2 linked regions of the Homo sapiens genome follow. The protein of the gene in region 1 purifies or fractionates together with the protein of each later gene. This does not show direct contact. Each region holds a gene or a part of one and is shown on either strand. Other genes may lie near its edges.

Region 1 (3,750 bases):
ACGTGTAGCAACTTGACCAAGGCCACAAAACTCATAAGCAACAGTGCTGAGATGTGAACCCCAACAGGTGAGCTCCAGAATCCCACACTTTTGATGTCTTTGCTATGTGTTTTCTCTGCTAAGGAAAAGCCAGGCACTCCTTCATTGTGAAGAGGAAAGTGCCAACACAGAATTCTGAGAGAGTCGAAGAGGAGGAGGCTCATGTATAAGTCCCTCCTCCCTTGGACACTCAGCTGAGGGTCAGGAAGGACCACTCCCAGCCCAGCATTGGCCAAACCACTCTGGGGTGCAGGGTCTCTTGGCAGGCTGCTCCGGCCTCCACCCAGCCCTGAAATCATGGACAGGCAGCACCTGTCCATCTCCTGCCTCCACGGGATTCTCTGTCACATTTGAAAATGAAAACAATGCCAGGCATCCCCTGCCCTTCTCCGTAGATTCTCCCCACACCAGGAGAAATGCCTGAATCACACTCGAGGATTTACATGGGGTTGTCCAGGATTCCTGTGAGCAGTGGACCTGCTGCCTGGCTTTCCTCTATTCATCCTTTGCTGCTGCCAGACACAAGCAAAGAAGGAGCTAAGGTCCCATCTGCCACCTCAGTTTCATTCATAATCTAGAGGGAGTCAGGCAACATGGGTGTTCAAACCCCAATTCTGTCATGGACCAGCTGGGCAATCTCAAGCAAATTACTTAACCTCTCTGAGCCTCAGTAGACTATCTGTTCAATAATAGTACTTACCTTCCAAGAATGCTGTGATGGGATAATGCATAATGATGCTCTCATGTGTACACCCTCCCTCTCTCCCAGTCTCTGCTGGTTTCTGGCTGCCTCCAAGACTCTTCCTATAAGACCCTCAATTCCCCTCTCCTTCATGCTCCAGGGACACACTCCGTCTGTGCTCCTGTCACAGGTTTCTGGCCCCGCAATCATGAAATGAGTTATTCAGGCACCTTCCAGCCTGAAAACCTTGTTCACCAGGACTCCCAGCCTGCCTCGTCTTGTCTGCTCCAGGCTGAGGCGGGAGCCCTCTGCCGGAGGACAGCCACTCTGCCTGGAACATCTCTGCACTATCAGCTGCCAGGCAAGCGGACACCTCAGAGGGATCAGGGAATCAGGAGGGAAGAGGTGGGATCTTCATGGAGGACTGGGGGCTGGGGGTGGGGTAACAGAGCAGGAGACGTGACTTCCTTGAGGAGCTGCTGTACTCCAGCTCCTGCTCCTGGCTTCCTGGGCTCCTTCGAGAAAAACTGAGAGCAACTTCTAGAATCTGATCTCTGAAAGAGCAGCCCCGATGCTTTTCTGTCACCAGAATCCACTCCCTGGCCATAATATCCACTCATTTTCCCAAAGCATCCTCCTCTCTCGGTACAACGAGGAGGAGGTGATCCGCCTCTTGCTCCACACCCCCAGCTGCAGCCGAACTGCAGGGGAAGGGCGGGTGGTGGTCCGGACAGTTCCCACCCCCGACTCCAGGTGACGCTGAGCCTGGGGCTTACCTCAGTGTATTCAAGTGATTTGGATCAGGATGACTCCGAGCAAAACCCTGACTCTCTCCCCTTAACCAGCTGATGCTCCTGGGCACAACTTCCCTCCCCGAGCCTCAGTTTCCTCCTCTGTAAAATGAGTATAACAATATTGCAACAGATAATGGATGCCCAAAGCCTGGCACAGTGAACGCACTCAACCAATGGGCTGGCACTACGGTTAGCAGCGAACTCAGACCCTGGGGAGGCTCAAAGAAAACGAGGCTCCCCCTCTGCTCGCCCGAGCTCAAAGACGGACGCTCAGGGCGCGCACCCTGCCCAAGCCCGGGGAAGCTAAAGGTGTCTGCGCGTCGAGTGCTGAGGCCACAGTGTGGAGAGGGGAGCGGTGCCACCGAGCGAGCCGCCCTCCGCCACCCTCCCCAGGCCACCCGCGTCGCGAGGGTACCCAAGCGCGCTCTTCTCAAGCGGGCGGCTCCGGGGTTCCCGGCCGCCCTGCCGGGATGCCCGGAACCCAGCCTGGCCAGCGCGCAGCCTCGCCCAGCCGCGGCGGCCCCGCTCCCGCCCAAGCCCGCGCCCCGCTGCGACTCACCGGCGCCGGCTCCGGGGAAAGTTTGGTGGCGCGTTGGCCGCGGCGGCCAGGCTGCTGGGTGTCGCGGGGGCGGCGGCGGGGGCGCCGGGGAGCTCTCGGGGAGCGGGGCGCCGGAGGAGGAGCCGCTCCGAGGGGCCCACCCGCGAGCAGCGGGGAAGGCGGGGACCCGGGCCCCGCGGGCCTGCAGCGCCCCCGCACCCGGTTCCACGCGCCCAGGGCCGCCCCCGCGGAGAGAGGGGGCGCGAGGGGCGCGCCTCTCGCTCGGACACCCTCTCCCAGCTCGCGCCCCAGGTTTGGAGCTGCTCCCGCTGGGTACCCGGGCTCGGGCTCTGCGAGGCGGACTGCTCCTTGGGTTTGGAAGGAGGGGTGGCAGAAGGGTCAGAACCTTGGTGAGACAACTCCACCCCCACCCACGCACCTGCGGGCACACAAAACGACAGACAGAGATAAATCAAGACAAAGAGGCACAGATGGAAATAGAGATGAAACGATGTTTGGCAGAGTCAATCACAGATAGATTGAAAAAGACAAATAGTGATACCTGCGCCCCTCATTCCTGCTAGGGGCGCCAAAATCGAAAAAGGCAAAGTCAGACAGAGGTGGAACAAGATTGACAGTAGGAACCCTACCCCTAGAGGTTTCGGGGAACTAAAGAGACCCCAGGGTCTACAACCTCACACCTCTCTTCTGTTTCTCCCTAGCCCGTCCTGATGAATGAGCCCACATTTCAAAATAGGATGTGTTTTAATTAGCAACCTGTGCCACCCCGAGCAGCAAGGGGAGGAGTGGGGTGGGGGTGAGGCCCCTCTGCAGGTCCCCGGGAACCTCTGTCCCTGGCAATGGGAGCTTGAGGATTCTTCCTGGCTGCCTTCATTTCCAGAGCTGGGAGAGAGAGGTCGAGGTTTTTCTGCCTTCTCAGCGCCGGGAAAACTCCATTTGAACCTTTGAACAGTTATGGTTTCAGATTTTACCCCAGCAGTTTCGAAGGGACCACCTAAGCTCACAGGGAGAGGAGGGTGTTTGAGGAGGTGGGACATGGTGGGTTGGGGTGTGGGGGTGGGGGTCAGAGGGGTATTTTAGCCTCCTCCCAGTAGCAGCAGTCCCACCAGCCCTGGTTGTGGACCACACAGAGCTGGGTCTGAGGCTCAGCTTCACAAGCTGTGTATGGTAGGTCCATGGTCCTTTTTCTTGGCCTCAGGGCCCATGTCGGTAACACAAGGGTTCATAAAGACAGGGGCCATTGTGTCAGATGCTTTTCTAAGTGCTACAGATGCTTACTCATTTAATCCTCACAACAATAATAGGTCCTAGTAGGTAGGAACTATTATTATCCCTATTTTACAGGTGAGAAAATGAAGGCACAGAGAGATTGAGTAACTTGCACAAGGTCACATGTAGGAGAACTGAGCATCCACCCTACTCAGCCTGGCCCCAAGGTCCAAGGTGCTGTTATAACTTCATCTCCGTGGGGCTGTTGGAAAGTTTCATGATGCCATTTCTATAAAGGGCTTAGTGCTCCATAAATGGTAGCTCAGAGATCACTGATCCCATCTGCAAGGTGGGGATTAAAGGACTTTGTGATGCCCAGTGATATGAGACTTTGGCCTTGAGATAATGGCAGGCCATGTCACTGTCCTGGGCATTATGGATTCGAGAAGTCAGGGATGTCCCATTTG
Region 2 (3,650 bases), on another chromosome or scaffold:
AGGCTGTGTGTTGCGGGGAGCAAAGCAGGGATGGGTGTTAGAGATAGAATGTAAAGAAGAGAGAGAAAGAGATGGGAGAGGCAGAGAAAGGTAAACAGGAAGAGTGAACAGTGGGAGAGGCAGAGCCAGGGAGGGAGAAGATGGGAAGAGAGAGGCAGAAACTTGGTAGGGTCTGCCCTGGGCAAGTGGTGAAGGCCCCTGTAAGTGCCAGAGGCAGGGGGATGGGGGTACCCAGGCAGGGTCCCCTCCCCCAGGGAGACACTTTGGTGCAGAGAGGGGCCAGGTCAGGAAGCTGTCAAGGAAACGCTGGTCCCCACCTGCAGAAACGGCCGTGGGAACAGGGAGCAGAGGGACACACACGGCAGTGGGACGGGAGGAGCAGAAAAGAGGATTGCGGGGGTAAGGGAGGCTTCAGGCGAGCGCGCTGTCTGCGAGGTGGCCCGGGCACAGGGCTTGGTGCACGGTGGGTTTTTAGACAGAACTGGAGAAGGGATGGCAAGAGGGAGAAAGAGGAACAGAAGGAGGAGGAAGACCACACCAGAATTACCTGATCAAGTGATAGCTGTGAGATGCCAGAGTGCAGCAGAGAGAGGGGGAGGGGGAGAGAGGAGGGACATGCGCCGATCAGAGCAGGATGGGACAGAGAGAGAACATCAGTCAAGAATAAAATCCCAGCCCCTTGGTTCCTGGCTGGGTGGGGGCCCCAGGCTGGCCCTAGACCCTCCCTGGGACCAACCACACCTCCCCACTGCGAGCACACCCCAGCTATCTTGCTGAGGGCTGGTGGGAACCCATGCCCTGGCTAACAGATGAGCAGGCCAGCCCGGTGAGGAGCTGAAATTCACCTAAGCCCACATAGCCACCCAAGGCAGAGCTTGGCTCTGGGATCCCAGCTGCATGTTCATTCCAGAAGTCACCCAGCCTCTGTCTGAGGGAGGATGGGGCCACCGGAGTCCGTCCTTCTTCCCTGGTCAGGCCTGCTCCTGGCTGAGGCCCAGGGCTCAGGAGAGGGTTCACCTGGCTGGGGTGGGGGCTGGGCCTGCTGCAGGGTAGGGACAGCCACGGAAGTGGTCAGATCCTACTCACTTCTGGAGCACGAAGATGCCCACGATGAGGGTGAAGGAGACCAGGTCGGCAGTGACCCACATGAGACAGTACTCGTCCGGGGGCTGTGGACAGACGGCCCGAGGCCAACTTCCAGTCATGGCCAGTCCAGACTGAGGCTCCAGACTGAGGGTCCGTGGACCAAAGGACCCCACATGGCCACTGGGGAAGGGCAAGGGAGGACCCTGAGAGGGTCTGGGGGCTGAAGATGACATTTTGCAGGTGTAGGCTCCAGGCGCTGTGGGCCTGGGGGCCGGGGCGTGTGTGTGCACACGTGTGCACTCTCAGGGTAGGAGGGGACTGTATGGTGCTCAGGGCAGAGGGGTTGTGTGCTAGGCCTGCAGGGTCTGTGTGTCTAGGGTCCTCAAAGCAGGAGCCAGATACTGAAAGACAATGGCTTTGCCGCCCCCCGCTGCCGACTCTCATCCATCGGTCTCGACCCTTTCCCCAGGCTGCCTTCCCTTCACCCTCCTCTCCCATAGAACCATCCACAGCTTAGGTCTGATTCATTGGCACTGCATTCTCTCAGCCATAAGGATACCCTCCACCTGCCTTCTGCATGCTCAGGGTGACAGTGGAGCCACCACCTATCTGCAGGTGCCCAGTCAACCAGCTAAAATATTGCTTTATTTGCTGTTCTCTGAGCAGATTTTAATTGTTTCCTATTCTTTTTTATTTTTATTTTTTGAGACAGGATCTCACTTTGTCATCCAGGCTGGAGTGATCACAGCTCACTGCAGCTTTGACCTGCTGGGCTCAAGCAATCCTCCCACTTCAGCCTACCGAGTAGCTAGGACTACAGGCGTGTGCCACCTTGGCCAGCAAATTAATTAATTATTATTATTTTTTTTTGTAGAGACAGGGTTGCCCAGGTTAGTCTTGTACCCCTGGGCTCCAGTGATCATCCTGCCTCTGCTTCCCAAAATGCTGGGATTATAGGCGTGAGCCCCACGCCCGGTCAATGCTTCCTATTCCTGTCCTTGTTACCCTCCAAAGCAAAGAAACCCAAGCAGCTCTTTACTTCTTTAGAGCCCTTAGTGATGCTTTTCTCCCTGTGGATGAGGCCCAGGGTCCTCCCAGCACCTTAGTGCAGATCCCAGATGCCATGAAACCCTCATGCCTCAAGCCTGCACGCCCACCATGGACTCCCCACCATGCTAGAGACCTCCCAGGGACAGCTCCAAGCACAGAGCTTGCCGAGTGGTCAGGGCAGGCTATAGGCAGCTCCAGCACTGCCCCCCAGGGGCCCTCTGCCCCCCAACTCACCATGATCCAGAGGGGGGAAGGCACCTGGGACAGGGCGTGGGAGTTGTCAGAGGTGACGGATGGGACCCCCGCACACCACAGCAGGGAGAAGAGCCACGGTGCGTTGACTGTGTAGAGGTTCACACTCAGGTTCCAGGACGCGTAGTCCCTGTGGGGCAGGGGAGAGGCAGGTCAGCATGCGGACCCTGGCAGCTCCAGGCCCAGTGTCGGGGCTGGTAAAGCACGTCCTGTTCACGACCTCACAGCCATGCCCGGGGCAAGGAACATTGGCTCCAGAGGGCCAAGCTCCGGGACAAGCCCGGGTCTGCCCGACACGCTCACCCTCTTGTCTTTGAACCATGTGTGCCTGATTCCTCTGTGTGCCCATCCCTCTGCCCGACCGTGTGTGTGTGTGTGTGTGTGTGTGTTGGGGGGTGGTGGTGGCAGGACTGGGAGAGACTCAGTCCCACCCTCTCCTGGAGGAGCCCAGGGCAGGGCAGGCACCTGAGCTCCTGGCGGGACACCTGAGTGTAGCGCAGGTTCAGCCGCTGGATGTGGCCTCTCCGCAGGCTGGCGACTGCCTCCTTGGAGCCTGATGTCTGTTGGAAGCCGGGAGCCACCTTCCGCACCAGGGGCCTCTGCCTGCTAGGCAGCCACATGACCTGCAGGCAGAAGAGAGGCAGCCTCAGACTTCTCTTCTGCACGATGCGTAAGAGTACCTACTCCTCCTAGAGCACCTGTGGGGTTAAGAGACAGGACCTGGCAGGCGGTGAAAGCTTAGATGAAGTCATTAGCAGGGCAGGACTCAGTCCCAGCCAAGGCTGCAAAGTGCACTGGCAGCAACTCAGGAAACTTCGCTTCTGGCCTGCTGTCAGTACGGGAGGGAAAACCCAAACAGCCACTACTCTGCACATGGCCACTAGCACCTAGTGTGCCGTCCTAAACTGATGTCAGATTTCTCTGGTCCCAGATTATTACACCAAACGACAGGGCAACACTTCACTGAAATAACTTGACCGCCTGGACCTTTATACATTTTAAAGTGTTTTCTTGTTCCCCTCTTGTCCCATGATGACCCTGCCAGGGAAGTGAGCAGTGTGTGATCCCCATTTTACAAATGGGAAAGCTGAAGTCCGGAGTGCAACAGGGAAAGGCTATGCAGCAGCAGGGCTCTAGCCAGGCCAGGGCTCCCGGGGGCAGAGCTGCGTTGCAGGGCCTCACCTGGTGCTGGGGGAAGCCGGAGTGCAGCACGGCCTCCAGAGTCACGTTGATAAAACTGCTGCGGTAGGGGTGCTCCCGGG

Evidence for each region. Proteins that work in one complex are often made in the same cells at the same time.
Region 2: the proteins of HRH1 (region 1) and GDPD5 purify together in Homo sapiens (co-immunoprecipitation; one large-scale study listed by IntAct). This does not show direct contact.

The regions. Positions count from the first base shown.
Region 1 is NC_000003.12:11,152,879-11,156,628, reverse strand, and holds the start of HRH1 (histamine H1 receptor), read right to left. Parts: upstream 2,137-3,750; 5' UTR 2,075-2,136; intron 1,884-2,074; exon of another isoform or gene 1,498-1,883; intron 1-1,497. UniProt on the Homo sapiens protein: G-protein-coupled receptor for histamine, a biogenic amine that functions as an immune modulator and a neurotransmitter.
Region 2 is NC_000011.10:75,438,793-75,442,442, forward strand, and holds part of GDPD5 (glycerophosphodiester phosphodiesterase domain-containing protein 5), read right to left. Parts: coding exon 3,571-3,650; intron 3,012-3,570; coding exon 2,854-3,011; intron 2,519-2,853; coding exon 2,371-2,518; intron 1,170-2,370; coding exon 1,087-1,169; intron 1-1,086. UniProt on the Homo sapiens protein: Glycerophosphodiester phosphodiesterase that promotes neurite formation and drives spinal motor neuron differentiation.